Regions from separate parts of the Homo sapiens genome. Here region 2 is linked to region 1. Evidence: fine-mapped expression QTL. A gene starts in region 1. The other region holds a variant in brackets. All regions are shown on one strand. Distances are between the middles of the regions. Region 1 holds the start of ABCC10 (ATP binding cassette subfamily C member 10). Region 2 holds the start of MRPS18A (mitochondrial ribosomal protein S18A).

Region 1 (8,330 bases):
CTCCCCATCTTCAGCCACCTCAGGTTCTTGATCCTCGGGCAGGAGGGGCTCCTGAGCCCAGGGTTCTCGTGGTCCCCCAGGAGCTGCCCATCCCAGTGCATAGGCCAAGAGTGCAGCCAGCTGCAGGATGAGCAAGCATAGGCGGGCCATGGGCCCTGGGAGAAGTGGGGGCAGAAGTGTGCCTCGCTGGCAATGCCACAACACGGTCAGCACTAGGGCTGGAGCTGGCAGCAAGGCTACCAGGGCCAAGGCCAAGGGACCCCGGGAGTGGCCATGAGGGGAATGTGCCAACACCCACAGGGCCAGGCTGTGGCTGATCCAGGCCACAGCTGCCACGCACCCTGCCAACACCTCTAGCCCTATGGGTCCTGGGCCTGCCCCTGGTGGCAAAGCAACTGGAAGAAGGTCTAGCAGCGGGAAGACGGAAAGCAGGAAGGAAGCTGCAAGTCGGAGGCGCCATCCAGGACTGCAGGGTAGGATGTAATCTGGACTCCTGGGGACAAGGGGGAAGACAAGGAGGCACATCGTGGCTGACTCAGGAGCCAGACATACCCCTCACCTCCAATAATTCACTTACCTAAGGAATCAACTCCCTTCCTGCCTTGCACATCTTATCCCTACTCCACTTTACCTCAGAACCCAGGGTCTTTTCTCCCAGGAAGTCTTCCCAGATGAACCTAACTCATTTTCTGACCAACTGAGCTAACCGGCCACCTGAACCTAACTCATTTTCTAAACTACCCACACCATTTCTGATTCATGTTTTTTTTTAAACCACAGACATTAACAATTTTGAGGTAAGATTGTACTTAACATGAAGACTAACTAGGAAAAAAAAAATCCTGGGTACTACGTTTGCTACTTTGGTGATGGGATCATTAGAAGCCCAAACTTCAGCATCACATAATATATCCATGTATAATAACAAACAAGCACATATGCCTCATGAATCTAAAATTTTAAAAAAAATCCAGGCTGGGCGCCGTGGCTCACGCCTGTAATCCTAGCACTTTGGGAGGCTGAGACGGGAGGATCGCCTGAGGTTAGGAGTTCGAGACCAGCCTGGCCAACATGGTGAAACCCCCATCTTTACCAAAAATGCAAAAATTAGCCAGGCATGGTGGCAGGCACCTGCAATCCCAGCTACTCAGGAGGCTGAGGCAGGAGAATCGCTTGAATCTGGGAGATGGAGGTTGCAGTGAGCTGAGATCACGCCAATGCACTCCAGCCTGGGTGACAGGGGAAGACTCCGTCTCAGGAAAAAAAAGAAAATCCAAAGTTTTCATGCAGATAACTGATAAAGGGTACATATTCATTTTTACAAAAGGATCCACCTAACAGTACCCTTAAATTCACCTGAAGCACTATTAAATGAATAAAAATCGGACTTACATACAGCTTTTATATTCTAATATGGTAGCCTAAACTTTATAAAGGCTTGGAATATTCTACTCTCTTTCCACTGATTATAGAAGGTGGTGTGGATTGCTTTTGCGACTCCTTTAGCTAAAGAAAAATATCTCTTTTTGCTTGTGTTTATATCTTCTTGGCATAAAAAAATGTTTTTAATAAACAAAAGGTGATCTGTCTGCATTAAGAATCAAATACAGGGGCTGGTCACAGTGGCTTATGCCCGTAATCCCAGCACTTTGGGAGGCTGAAGCAGGCAGATCACTTGAGATCAGCAGTTTGAGACCAGCCTGGCCAACATGGTAAAACCCGGTCTCTAATAAAAATACAAAAATTAGCAGGGAATGGTGGCACACACCTGTAATCCCAGCTACTTTGGGACACTGAGGCACGAGAATCGCTTGAACCTGGGAGGCGGAGGTTGCAGTGAGCTGAGATCGTGCCACTGTACTCCAGCCTGGGTGACAAAGAGAGACTCTGTCCAAAAAAAAAAAAAAGAATCAAATACAGGAAAACGTATCTGCAGCAGTGAGTATCAGGATGTCTTGAAAGTTCATACAAAAAGAGGACTGAGTCTGTTACACCCTTTGTGGCACGGCTAGGTTACTAAAAAAGTTTACTTGTAAGCTAAAATGCAGAGTCTTGCTCTGTCGCCAGGCTGGAGCGCAATGGCGTGATCTCAGCTCGCTGCAACCTCCGCCTCCCAGGTTCAAGCGATTCCCCTGCCTCAGCCTCCCGAGTAGCTGGGGGTTTTCTTAAAAGTCCACCTGATGACAGTTATTTGTAGGGATTTAGATGGGAATAAAAAATCAGCCTTTAAGAATTCTATTTCTGGGCTGGGCATGGTGGCTCAAGCCTGTAATCCCAGCACTTTGGGAGGCAGAGGCAGGTGGATCACTTGAGGCCAGGAGTTCAAGACCAGCCTGTGTAACACAGTGAAACTCCATCTCTAGTAAAAATACGAAAACTGGCCAGGCATGGTGGCACATGCCTGTAGTCTCAGCTACTCTGGAGGCTAAGGCAGGAGAATCGCTTGAACCCAAGAGGTGGAGGTTGCAGTGGGCCGAGATCGTGCCACTGCTCTCCAGCCTGGGTGACAGAGTAAGACCCTGTCTCAAAGAAAAAAAAAATTTTTTTCTATTTCTGGCTGGGCATGGTGGCTCACATTTGTAAACCCAGAACTTTAGGAGGCTGAGGCAGAAGGATTGCTTGAGCCCAAGAGTTCAAGACCAGCCTGGACAACAAAGCAAGGCCTTGTCTCTACTAAAAATAATTTTTTCTTTTTGAGACAGAGTCTCGCTTTGTCGTCCAGGCTGGAGTGCAGTGGTGCAATCTTGGCGCACCACAACCTCTGCCTCCTGGGTTCAAGCGATTCAAGATGGGGTTTCACCATGTTGACCAGGCTGGTTTCAAACTCCTGACCTCCAGTGATCTGCCTGTCTCAGCCTCCCAAAGTGCTGGGATTACAGGCATGAGCCACTGGGCCCGGCCAATTTTTTGTATTTTTAGTAGAGATGGCATTCTGCCACGTTGGCAGGCTGGTCTCGAACTCCTGGCCTCCTACAGTGCTGGCATTACAGGCTTGAGCCACTGCACCCGGCCTATTAAAAATAATTTTTAAAAAAATTAGCCAGGTGTGGTGGCATGCACTTGTGGCCCCAGCAAATCAAAAGGCTGAGGTGAGAGGTTGCTGGAGCCCAGGAGGTTGAGGCTGCAGTGAACTGTGATTGCACCACTGTACTTCAGCCTGGGCAACAGAGGGAGACGCTGCCTCAAAAAACAAAACAACAATAACAATCCCCCCTCCCCCCCGCCACACACACACACACACACACACACACACACACACACAAGAAAGAAAAGAAAGAAAGAAAAGAAAGAAGGAAAAGAAAAAAATATATATATTTCCTAAGATGTGGGGACCCAAGAAAGAACACTGGGCCCTTGGAGGCATAAACTGGCCCCAAGTTGGCCATCAACCAGCCTCATCACCCCTTCAAGTCTCTTTTCCTCTCTGAATCTCACTTTCCTCACCAGTATGGTGAGCAGTGAGTCTCAAGTTAAAGCCTTCTGAGGCCCTTTCCTGTCTTAGATTCTCGATCTCTCTAACCCTTCTCAGCAACACACACAAGGCTGATAAGTGAAGTGAAGCACAATTTCTATTGATCACATGATGGTCTTTCTTGCTTTCCCAGGGGGCGGATGAATCCCTTCCTTGGATAGGAGAAGCTGTGTATCCGCTTGGTCTGGGAGGAATCCTGATTTGTTTCTTACACAGAGACAAAAGTCTAGAAGGGTTTAATCACCTAGCATAGACAGCCTTCTCAGAAGAGCAGCTATTAAAAATTGGCACAGTCTTTTGGGAACTCAGTCTAATGAGAAAGCAAGAAAGACCTCTTGGATAGAGACACTTCCCCCCATCAGACTAGGAACTCCCAAAGGCAGAGACCACACCGTCCTCCTATCTTCTCGGCAGCCAGAATGAGACTAACTTTAGTCATCTCTAGCCATACAAGAACTAAATACAAAATCAAGTTGAGTTTAGCATCCACACCTTATAGCCCTTAATTGGGGAAGGCTTAATGTTTGATTTTGCTCTTCTTGTCTATCTACTGCTTCCTCTTCAGCTGAGCCTAGGTATGCTTTTCTTAATCTGGAAACACTAAGGTTTCATGGGTTGCAGTGGTGAGAAACTGAGCCTACAACTTAAACACATCATCGCTTTTGGCTAAAAACGTTGTTCCCCCAATTCTGCCTCCAATTCATGACAGCTGAGTCCGGGTAGCTGAAAATGGACAATTCTGATGATTTCTGATACTCATCGGACCTTTAAAAACATGCCAGGCGCTGCACTATATGCTTAAATTCATTATCTCATTTAAACCTCCCAACAATGAGACTCAGAGAAGGCAGGTACTTGCCCAAGAACAGCCACATTGCTGCTAAGTAGCAATGCTTAGATTTTATTCTACTTCTGCCCTACTCCAGAGACCTCGCTATTCTGGTGACACTGCCGGAAGATGTAGGCCGCGGGTGAGATCTGCAGGCACACATGGACAGATGCCTTGCGCCCGTCTCTACCCACCTCGGGGTGCCCAAGTAACAGGCACTGAGCACGGCGAGGAGCGCGTGGGGCAGGGCGCTGAGCACCAGCTGGGTGAAGCAGTGGCCTGTGGTGTCCCCCTCCCACAGCGGGAGCGGCCACGCTGCGCTGCTGCCGCACAGCTGGGCCAGAAGTCGTTCCATGGACGCCTCACCTGAAGGGAAAGTTGAGGGTGACGGCTGTGCAGGGTAACAGCCGGCTTTGCCTGCACTTCCCAGCCGGGTCTCCCTGTCTCCAGCCCCGCCCTGGAACCGGGACCGCCCGTCGCTTCCGCCCCGAAGCCAGACCCCGCCCATTCTCGCGGTACCAAGGGTAAAAACGGGAGGAGGTTTCCCCAGTGGATTTCTGGACGCTGGTCACCCACCTTGCCATCTGTTTTTCCCCTCCCGTTTCTCCGCCCCCAGGCATCCGGAACCTCAAACCTGAAGAAGCTGCTGTGCACCGGATTCCGATATCCTGAGAACTGGTGTATGCAAAAAAAAAAAAAGTACTGCCCGGCCGGGGTGCTGGGCCCGCCCCGGCTGGCACCCCACCTAGAGGTTGGAAGACCTAGCCGGCGCTATTCGCCACGCCCATATGCTGGTAGCTGCACGCATGTGCACTGCTCTCTGCTTCGGCTGGCCTTTGCACGCAGGCGCGCTGGTGCAGACGCACAGTTGCGTTTTGGTACGCTTTTGTGGCCTGACTTGCGTTAAGGATCCATCCCTCCCTTAGTGCAACGTCATTTATAACCTCTCACGTGGAGTATTCGCTCACAACTGTGTAAGCTTACTAGTTGGCACAAGCATTGCAATCTCCATTTCTTGAAGAGGTGGGGAGCCGGGCACGGTTGCGCGCCTCGGTAGTCCCTGCGCGCCCGTAGTCTCTGCGCGCCGGTAGATCCCAGGAGGATGGCCTGAGCCCAGGAGTTCGAGAACAGTCCAAGCAGCATAGCGAGACCCCAGTCTCAGATAGATAGATGGATGGATGGAAATTCAAACATACCTGCCCCACGGACAAATAATGCCATTTTGGGACACACTGTTTTCCCTTATTATTCTAGGGCTGCATGACCTTGGACAAGTTACCTAACTTTTTTGAGCCTCAACTTTTTTTTGGGGGGGGGACGGAGTCTCGCTCTGTCACCAGGCTGGAGTGCAGTGGCACAATCTCGGTTCACTGCAACCTCCGCCTCCCGGGTTAAAGCGATTCTCCTGCCTCAGCCTCCCGAGTAGCTGGGACTACAGGCGCGCGCAACCACGCCCAGCCAATTTTTTTGTTCGTATTTTTAGTAGAGACGGGGTTTCACCATGTTGGCAAGGATGGTCTCGATCTCCTGACCTCGTGATCCGTCCGCCTTGGCCTTCCGAAGAGCCGGGATTACAGGCGTGAGCCACCACCCCGGCCGAGCCTCAACTTCTTTATTTGTACAACAGGGACAATACCAATACTAAAGTACTGTTGAGAGAGTTGAATAATTAATTTAGAGTGCTTAGGGCAAGTGCTTTGCCTAGGGTAGTCCTCCAATAAATCTTTTAAGGAAGCAGTGGGAAGAACATAACCTTTATAATTATACGGACCTGGGTTTGAATGCTTTTAGCAGAGGGATGTTGGGCAGGTTACTTCTGCATCTTTATTTTATTATGTTTGTCAGGCATGGTGTTGGTATCCGCCTTTACATAGGTGTGTACAGTGCTTGAAGAAGAAAAGCTAAACAAATGACAATTATGGTTATCCCACTTAATCTCAGTAAGAAGCCCCATATCCCTCAACGTCAAGAATTAATTTTCCTATTTTTAAAAACTAAGAGATGTAGGTTTGCATTTCACAATCTTTAGTAATTAATTAACAGAGTCTTGCTACCTGGCCCAGGCTGGTCTTGAACTCCTGGCCTCAGGTGATGCGCTTGCCTTGGCCTCCCAAAGTGCTGGGATTATAGGTGTGAGCCACTGCACCTGGCCAGGCTCCACTTCTAATTCTAATTCACTTGCTGTTTCCATCACATCTGCAGTTACTTCCTCCACTGATGTCTTGAAGGTCCATCCGTGAAGGTTGGAATCAGCTTCTTCCAAACTTCTGTTAATGTTGATATACGTTGTCCTCCTCCCATGAATCCCATGAATCACAGTTTTTTATTTATTTATTTATTTATTTTTATTGATCATTCTTGGGTGTTTCTCGCAGAAGGGGATTTGGCAGGGTCATAAGACAATAGTGGAGGGAAGGTCAGCAGATAAACAAGTGAACAAAGGTCTCTGGTTTTCCTAGGCAGAGGACCCTGCGGCCTTCCGCAGTGTTTGTGTCCCTGGGTACTTGAGATTAGGGAGTGGTGATGACTCTTAACGAGCATGCTGCCATCAAGCATCTGTTTAACAAAGCACTTGCACCGCCCTTAATCCATTTAACCCTCAGCGGACACAGCACATGTTTCAGAGAGCAGGGGGTTGGGGGTAAGGTCATATATTAACAGCATTCCAAGGCAGAAGAATTTTTCTTAGTACAGAACAAAATGGAGTCTCCTATGTCTACTTCTTTCTACACAGACACAGCAACAATCTGATTTCTCTATCTTTTCCCCACATTTCCCCCTTTTCTATTCGACAAAACCACCATCGTCATCATGGCCCGTTCTCAATGAGCTGTTGGGTACACCTCCCAGATGGGGTGGCGGCCGGGCAGAGGGGCTCATCACTTCCCAGAAGGGGCGGCCGGACAGAGGCGCCCCCCACCTCCAGGACAGGGCAGCTGGCCGGGCGGAGGCGCCCCCCCCCACCTCCTGGACGGGGCAGCTAGCCGGGCGGGGGCTGCCCCCCACCTCCCGGACGGGGCAGCTGCCAGGCGGAGACGCTCCTCACTTCCCAGACAGGGCAGCTGCCGGGCGGAGGGGCTCCTCACTTCTCAGACGGGGCGGCTGCTGGGCGGAGGGGCTCCTCACTTCTCAGACGGGGCGGCCGGGCAGAGACGCTCCTCATCTCCCAGACGGGGCGGCGGGGCAGAGGCGCTCCCCACATCTCAGACGATGGGCGGCCGGGCAGAGACGCTCCTCACTTCCTAGACGGGATGGCGGCCAGGCAGAGGCTGCAATCTCGGCACTTTGGGAGGCCAAGGCAGGCGGCTGGGAGGTGGAGGTTGTAGCCAGCCGAGATCACGCCACTGCACTCCAGCCTGGGCAACATTGAGCACTGAGTGAATGAGACTCCGTCTGCATTCCCGGTACCTCGGGAGGCCGAGGCTGGCAGATAACTCACGGTTAGGAGCTGGAGACCAGCCCGGCCAACACAGCGAAACCCCGTCTCCACCAAAAAAAATATGAAAACCAGTCAGGCGTGGCGGCGCGCGCCTGCAATCCCAGGCACTCGGCAGGCTGAGGCAGGAGAATCAGGCAGGGAGGTTGCAGTGAGCCGAGATAGCGGCAGTACAGTCCAGCTTCTGCTCGGCATCAGAGGGAGACTGTGGAAAGAGAGGGAGAGGGAGACCGTGGGGAGAGGGAGAGGGAGACCGTGGGGAGAGGGAGAGGGAGGGGGAGGGGGGAGAGAGAGCGCTTTTTTTTTTAATGGAGGCAGGGTCTCACTATGTTGCTTAAGCTGGTCTCAAACTCCTGGCCTCAAGCCATCCTCCTGCCTCAGCCTCCCAAAGTGCTGGAATTGCAGACATGAGCCAACATGCCTGGCTCACAGATATTCCTAATGGCATCTAGTGTGGTGAATGTTTTCCAGAGGGTTTTAAATTTACTTTGTCCAGATCCATCAGAGGAATCACTGTCTATGACAGCTATAGCCTTATGGAATGTATTTCCTAAATAATACTTGGGCCAAGCACAGTGGCTCACACTTCTAAT
Region 2 (8,330 bases), 260 kb before region 1:
CTTACTTTGGGTGGCAGCTAACCATCTGCAGCTCCCAGACAAGGGCCCTGACCCCCTTTCATTCCACAGCACTGTTGTACTTACAAAAAGAATCCACAGCATACTCAACTAGGGAGAAGGGAATAAAAGACTCACTGATTGAATAGAACATACTGTTTTTGGAGTAGGAAGCTAGATATTAGAAAAAATTTTGGGCCAGGCGCAGTGGCTCACGCCTGTAATCCTAGCACTTTGGGAGGCCGAGGCGGGTGGATCACCTGAGGTCAGGAGTTCAAGAGCAGCCTGGCCAACATGGTGAAACCCTGTCTCTACTAAAAATACAAAAAATTAGGCAAGCTTGGTGGCGGGCACCTGTAATCCCAGCTACTCAGGAGGCTGAGGCTGAGGCAGGAGAATTGCTTGAACCTGGGAAGCAGAGGTTGCAGTAAGCCAAGATCGCACCACTGCACTCCAGCCTGGGCAACAGAGTGAGACTATTGTCTCAAAAAAAAAAAAAAAATGAAAGAAAATATTTTGAATTGAAAGCAAGCTAAAAGCGGCCAGGCACAGTGGCTCATGCCTGTAATCCCAGCATTTTGGGAGGCCAAGGCAGGCAGATCACCTGAGGTCAGGAGTTCGAGACCAGCCTGGCCAACATGGCGAAACCCCATCTCTACTACAAATACAAAAATTAGCCGGGCATGGTGGCAGGCACCTGTAATACCAGCTACTTGGGAGGCTGAGGCAGGAGAATCGCTTGAACCCAGGAGGCAGAGGTTGCAGTGAGCCGAGATTGCACCATTGCACTCCAGCCTGGGGGACAAGAGTGAGACTTCCTCTCAAAAAAAAAAAAAAAAGCCAAAGCTTAGCAATTGGAGATTGGAGATTGCACTTCCAGACAGTGAAATAGTACATAGCCATTAAATATAGTGCCAAAGTTTGCCTGTCGTCCCAGCTACTCAGGAGGCTGAGGCAGGAGGATTGTTTGAGCCCAGGGGGTTGAAGCTGCAGTGAGCCATGTTCAAGCCACTGCACTCTAGCCTGGGTGACAGAGCAAAACTCCATCTCTGAAAAAATAAACAAATGAAGATATATATATATATATATATATGTGTGTGTGTGTGTGTGTGTGTGTGTGTGTGTGTGTGTGTGTGTGTGTATGGTGCCGAATGACAGAAAAAGAGACCACTGGAACTAAATAGAGATTCCAGAAAACAGACCAGATGAAATGCAGTGGGGAAAGTGTGAAATTTTTAATTAGTCGGGCATGGTGGCAGGCACCTGTAATCCCAGCTGCTCGGGAGGCTGAGGCAGGAGAATCGTTTGAACCCAGGAGGTGGAGGTTGCAGTGAGTGGAAATCACACCATTGCACTCCAACCTGGGCAACAACAGCAAAACTTCGTCTCAAAAAAAAAAAAAAGGAAAAGTGTGAAAATTTTAAATGGTGCTAGGTCAGTTAGATATTGAAATTATACGGGAAAAATTAATCTTAATCCCAGTTTCAGACCATAACAAAACAATTCCAGATGACTCAAAGATCTAAATGTGAAAAGTAAACAATAAAGTTTTTAGAAAAAAAGACAGAAGAACATCTTCATGACCTTGAAGAGGACAAAAATTATTATTTATTTTTTACTTTTTGTAGAGACACCTTCTTACTCCATCACCCAGGCTGAAGTGCAGTGGCGTCATCATAGCTCACCGTAACCTCAAACACCTGGGCTCAAGTGACCCTCCCCATTTTAGCCTTCCAAGTAACCTGGACTGCATGCACGTACCCAGCTAATTTTTTTTTTTTTTAATTAGGTCTCACTCCCATTGCCCAGGCTGCTGGAGTGCAGCGGCACAATCATGGCTCACTGCAGCCTTGACTTCCCGGGCTCAGGTGATTCTCCCACCTCAGCCTTTTGAGTAGCTGAGACTACAGGCATGCACCACCGTGCCTGGCTAATTTTTCTGTGTATTTTCAGTAGAGATGGGGTTTCACCTGTTGCCCAGGCTGGTCTCAAACTTCTGGGCTCAAGCAATCGTCCTGCCTCAACTTCTCAAAGTGTTGAGATTACAGGCATGAGCCACCACGCCCAGCCAGAAAAAGAATTGAAAAGGAAACAAGAAGCATCAACCATAAAAGAAAAAAACTGATAAATTGCACTATATTAAAATTTTTTAAATACTCCTCATAAAAAAAAAAACTACAGGAGAATGAAAAGGCAACCCACAGAGAGGGAGATGACATTTGAAGTACATATATTCAAGAAAGGATAAGTATCCAGCATATATAAAGAACTACAAATCAATAAGAAAAAGACAGGCCAGGAGCTGTAGCTCATGCCTGTAATCCCAGCACTTTGGGAGGCTGATGCAGGAGGATCGCTTGAGAGGAGGACTTCGAGACCAGTCTGGGCAACATAGTGAGACCCTGTCTCCACAAAAAAATTAAAAACAAGCTGGGTATCAGGCTGGGCGTGGTGGCTCATGCCTATAATCCTAGCACTTTGGGAGGCCGAGGTAGACAGATCACCAGAGGTCAAGAGTTCGAGACCAGCCAGGCCAATATGGTGAAACCCCCGTCTCTACTAAAAATATAAAAATTAGCTGGGCATGGTGGTGGGAGCCTGTAATCCCAGCTACTCAGGAGACTGAGGCAGGAGAATTGCTTGAACCCAAGAAGCGGAGGTTGCGGTGAGCCGAGATCATGCCACTCCACTCCAGCCTGGGCGACAGAGCTAGACTCCATCTCAAAAAAAAAAAAAAAATTAGTTGGGTATCATAGTGTATGCCTATAGTCCCAGCTCCTCAGGAGGCTGAGAGGTTGGAGGATCACTTGAGCCTGAGAGGTCAAGCCTGCAGAAAGCCACGAATGTGCCACTGCACTACAGCCTGCGTGACAGGGAAGTCCTGTCTTTAAATAAATAAATAAATAGAAAAAAGAAAAGCAAAACACAGGCAACCCAATATAACATCAGCCAAAATATTAAACACACATTTTACAAAAGAGATGTCTAAATGACCTATATTGCTATATAAACTGCACGCTTGAAATTTATTGGCCAGGTGTGGTGGCTCACGCCTGTAATCTCAACACTTTGGAAGGCCGAGGCAGGTGAATAATTGGAGGTCAGGAGATCCATACCAGCCTGTCCAACATGGTGAGACTCTGTCTGTACTAAAAATACAAAAATTAGCTGGACATGGTGGGGTGCACCTGTAATCCCAGCTACTCGGGAGGCTGAGGCAGAAGAATCACTTGAACCTGGGGGGCGGAGGTTGCAGTGAGCCAAGATCGCACCATTGCACTCCAGCCTGTGGGACAGAGTGAGACTCTGTCTCAAAAATAAATAAATAAATAAATAAATATAAATAAATGGTCTATGAACATATGAAAAGTTACTCATCTTCATTAAGCATCAGAGAAATGTAAGATAAATACACAGTGAGATCCTACTACACGCCAACCAGAATGGCAAGATTAAAAATACCAAAAAAAAAAATCAAATATTGACAAGGTGTGGAGCAATTAGAACTGTCACACACAGTTGATACCAGAGTAAACTGGTACAATCATTATGGAAAATTGTTTGACAGTATCTAGCCTGGCCTTTGGGCCAGACATGGTGACTCGTGCCTGTAATCTCAGCAGTTTGGGAGGCTGAGACAGGCAGATTGCTTGAGCCCAGGAGTTTAAGACCAGCCTGGGCAACATGGGAAAACCCCACCTCTGCAAAAAATACAGAAAATTAGCCGGGCATAGTGTCATGTACCTGTAGTCCCAGCTACTCAGGAGGCTGAGGTGGGAGAATCACCCGTGCCCAAGAAGTCCAGTCTACCGTGAGCCATGATCACGCCACTGCACTCCAGCCTGGGTGACAGAGCAAGACTCTGTCTCAAAAAAAAAAAATTTAATTTAAAAAGGCTTTTGTAAAAACTGTCAAGGCAATATCTTCTACTAAAGCTGAGCATAGGCATACCCTGCAACCTAACAGTTCTACCGCGAGATAGGCCCCAAAGAAGTTTGTTCTTGTGTTCACCAAGAGTCACGTAGAAGAACGTTACAGCACTCTTTGTAGTAGTCCCAAGTGGCAAGTATCTAAATTCTATCAACAGAAAAAAAAGTGATTTTTTAAAATATAGTATATTCACAGTGGAATATTATATAAAGGTCAAATGCAGGGAAAAGTAATGTATTGTGCTAAAAGTCAGGATAATGATTATCCTTGCGGGGTAGTGTCTGGAAGGGGACACAATGGGGTGTTCTAGAGTGCCAGTCAAGTTCTGCTTGAACATGCCACTCCACTCCAGTATGGGTAGTGTGTCCCTTTGCGAAAATTCATCAAGCAGTACACTGATGATTTGTGTGTTTTGTTGTTTTTTGTTTGTTTGTTTGTTTGGGTTTTTTGTTTTTTTTTTTGAGACAGTCTCACTCTGTTGCCCAGGCTGGAGTGCAATGGCGTGATCTCGGCTCACCGCAACCTCCACCTGCAGGGTTCAGGTGATTCTCCTGCCTCAGCCTCCTGAGGAACTGAGATTACAGGAGCCTACCACGCCCAGCTAATTTTTGTATTTTTAGCAGAGATGAGGTTTCACCATGTTGGCCAGGCTGGTCTCGAACTCCTGACCTTAAGTGATCCACCTGCCTC[G/A]GCCTCCCAAAGTGCTGGGATTACAGGCGTGAGCCATTGTACCCAGCCTGTGTATTTTTCTTACACAGGTAATACTTTAATTAAAAGATGTGTTGTTTTTTAAAGCTAGTCTCCTGATCCAAACCTGGTCTCACAGAATTGTAGGGACTAATCATAAATGGATTCAGAAAAATAAGATATTATAAGGCAAAGAATATCCACAGTATTATTTCATCTTGCTAAATGTAAACAATGCTTATCTCTGGATTTTAGATGACATTTATTTTCTTTTTACTTTATTTATTGTTTCATTTTTCTACAATGATCACATGTTACCTGTCATAGTTGTTTTTTAAAATAAAATTTGTTTATGATAAGTTAAGATAAGATAATGAGAAGAGGGTTGGCACTCGAATGCTTTAGCTCACTGTGTCCAAAGCAAGCCCTGGGTGGGGCTCTGTTGCTGCCCTTGTCTCTACTGGATTCCTGGAAGTTGGAAATGGGTGAAGAAACAGAGGATGTAGTACAAACACAAAAGGTCATCTATACATCTATAAGCTCAAGGTCATCTATGCAGAACAAACTTGGAAGCTATAGGGAGAGTCAAAGCTTTCTTGATCCTGGCTGGGACACCTAGACCTACACCTCACTAAGACCCTCTGCTTCACTCCTAATCCATGTGTCAGTCTCTACCACCTTGATTGACTTTTCTTTTAAGTTTCCCCTTCACCGGGTTTACCTTTGCTAAATGAGATGTTTTAACGTAACCCAATGCTGCATTTCTCCTGTTCTCCCTGTCTATGGTGATGCCACTCACATTTTCCATACAGCAGCTGCTCTGCATCCTCCTATTAGGGTGACGGTCCCAACTGGATGATGGGCTCCTCTCCTACTCATCAGAAAACATGCTATGTCATTTAATAAGCCTGATTTTCCCATCTTGAATCAGAGAAGGATAGGAAGAACTGAGTTGTGAATGATTTTCCTTTCCTGTGGAGCTCCAGAGGAACATCCTATACGTCTCACAAATCTGAAAGAGGAAAAACTGGCAGTTGTATTTTCTCTTTGGTACCATAAGCTTCCTTACAACACAAGTGAGTCCAACTTGTGAAAAGAGTCATCTCCATAACTGCTCTATTAACTAGCTTATGTTTATTGAGCCCTTTTGTTTTGTTTTGTTTTGTTTTGTTTTGTTTTTGAGACGGAGTTTCACTCTTGTCGCCCAGGCTGGAGTGCAATGGTGTGATCTTGGCTCACTGCAACCTCCGCCTCCTGGGTTCAAGCGATTCTCCTGCCTCAGCCTCCCAAGTGTCTGGGATTACAGGTGCCCGCCACCACACCCACCTAATTTTTGTATTTTTAGTAGATAGGGTTTCACCATGTTGGTCAGGCTGGTCTTGAACTCCTGACCTCAGGTAATCCACCCGCCTCAGCCTCCCAAAGTGCTGGGATTACAGGCATGAGCCACCACACCCGGCCGATCACTTATGTTTTATCACATCTAATCTTCAGGGTCTAGTCCTCCCCTAGGCCCTATAAAATAGATTCTACTCATTCATTCAACAAGTATATATTGTACTCTTATTATGTGTCAGGAACTATTCTAAGTGCTGGAGATGTGCGAGTCAACAGAAAACAATGTTCCTGACTTCATGGAGCTTACAGTCTGGTGAGAAGACACATACAAAACAAACATAAAACTGAAATTGTCCCAAGCACTAAGATGGAGAGGCATCTGGTGCTGAGAATGGGCAGTCAAGCAAAACTGTGGAAATAAGGTTTGAGGTGAGCTCTAAGAAATAAGCAGAAGCTAACTAGACAGCTAAAGAGCAGACAAAGGAAATAGCTTGTATCAAGGCCCTGGGGCTAGAGAGAGGTCTAAGTATATGCAAATCAAAGATCAGTGTGGCAGTGGTCAGGGAAGAAGGGGGTATCAATTCTATCCCAGGTCTGCCTGATATCCGATACTCCAGAGCCAGAGTTCCTAACCATTTCAGCCTCTCCCGTAGAGGTCTAGCCCCAGTCACAGAAGCTAAAAGTCCACAGCTCACGTGCAGTGAAGAGAAAGCTTTAAAGACATAGGTGGGGTGTTGCGTGCGATTTTCCTAAGGAAGCCTTCCAGGAAACGAATGCAACCTTGAAGACTTGTAGGCATTGGCAGACAGGAGCTAGAAGACCTCCCCTAGATCCTTAACACGAAATATAGGCTTGACGCAGAAGCCTCTCTTCGTATCCCAAAGCGGACAGGTGAGAGAAATGATGTGACAGGAGCAAGCGAACTACAACCCCGCCCCGCCGTTCCTGCCCCACCACTGCGGCGGCGGGCGCTACGTTCCGGAAGCGGAAATGGACGAGAGGTCAGGGTAGGTTTTTGAAGATGGCGGCCCTCAAGGCTCTGGTGTCCGGCTGTGGGCGGCTTCTCCGTGGGCTACTAGCGGGCCCGGCAGCGACCAGCTGGTCTCGGCTTCCAGCTCGCGGGTTCAGGGAAGGTGAGTCATGCGTCCCAGCAACCTCCTGAAATTAAGAAGAGCGGCAGAGACTGCTTCCGCCAGCCCCGGTGCGCTCCTTCCTACCTTTCCTTCGTCCGATTCTGAAACTTTGGAGGTACCGGCTCCCCAGGCGTGCTTAAAAGCCCCTTCCACACCCTGGTGCCTTATCTTGATCTCCTGCCCCTTGTGAGTATCTTCACAAGGCGGAGGAGGACGGAGAGAAAAGCCTGCTTACTTAGCAGGAGCAGACACTAAACCTGTCCTAGGGCTCAGAAAAGTTTTCGGAAAGGGTTTGCATGTTAATTCTTCCTTCCATGTTCTCCGAATCGCAGTCTCTTTTATTAAAGAGTCTCTGGATCACGAAGGAAGGCCATCTGGGTACCCTCCCAGAGCCTCCCTTTCCACTTTCCCTTCTCAAAATGCTGTGATCTGATGGCGGCGTTCTCTGCCCCGGGCCGCTAGTCTCCCTGTGAGGGGGAGGCCAAAGTGGAAAGGCCATTGAATAGCTGAGACATAGGCAAATGCAGGATGGTAGTTCAGCTTTTCATTAATCTTAATCTGGGAAAGCGGCCTGATTCGAGCATCAACTGAGAGTTTACTGAATGCCAAGTGCTATGCTTCAAGCTGTGAAGGAATTCTGGAGACAGAAAATACAGCCCTTTTTCTGAAAAGCTTAGGTTCTAATGAGATTATGTATATACACACTCCAATAAATGCAAGTTAGCCTTTTACGTGACGAAGTACAGGGAGACTCAGTTACTGGAAACGGCAAACCCAGTTGGAAGTTTTCATAAAGAGGATGTGTCTTGAGCAGGCTCACAAAAGGATGGAATCTGGCGGAGAGTGAAACGGTCTTTTAGGACATAGCCTTCCTTTGTGTACTCCTGGAAGCAGGAAAGGATGAGTGATGTGCAAAAGAAGAGATGTGGGGTTTTTTGAGGATCTGGCATAGTATTGGGCAGCATATCCTTTAACGAAAGCTGAGAAGTATCCAGTGGAAAAGAGTGATCATTGTTGTCAGAGGGAGCAGAAAAGTCTAAAAAGGGCCTAATGAAGGGGCCATTGGATTTGTCTCAGAAGAGGTCTCTTTGTAGCTTTCAAACAGCAATTTCAATAGAGTGGCAAACAAGGAATCCAGTTTGGAGAAATGAAAGAGATAGTTGATGAAGAGATGGAAATAGTAAGTATGTTTGAAGAATTTAGCCCGTAAGGGAAGTGGAGCATTTGCTAGAAAAAAAAGTCTGG

The links.
Region 2: its variant is fine-mapped to the expression of ABCC10 in whole blood (TOPMed, PIP 0.99).

The regions. Positions count from the first base shown.
Region 1 is chr6:43,424,305-43,432,634 of GRCh38, reverse strand. ABCC10 (ATP binding cassette subfamily C member 10) reads right to left here and starts at 5,094. Exons shown (of 22, transcript NM_001198934.2): 1 at 4,878-5,094; 2 at 4,496-4,667; 3 at 1-493. The coding sequence starts at 4,656. It overlaps LOC105375065 (a long non-coding RNA gene), which reads right to left. Exons shown (of 6, transcript XR_007059585.1): 6 at 6,621-7,942. RefSeq lists enhancers at 4,448-4,517, 6,619-7,140.
Region 2 is chr6:43,686,423-43,694,752 of GRCh38, reverse strand. MRPS18A (mitochondrial ribosomal protein S18A) reads left to right here and starts at 6,962. Exons shown (of 6, transcript NM_018135.4): 1 at 6,962-7,085. The coding sequence starts at 6,974. LOC124901320 (a long non-coding RNA gene) reads right to left here and starts at 5,791. Exons shown (of 2, transcript XR_007059586.1): 1 at 5,414-5,791; 2 at 4,860-5,082. RefSeq lists enhancers at 6,592-7,203, 7,149-7,208. The variant G/A (reference allele first, on the strand shown) is at 4,618.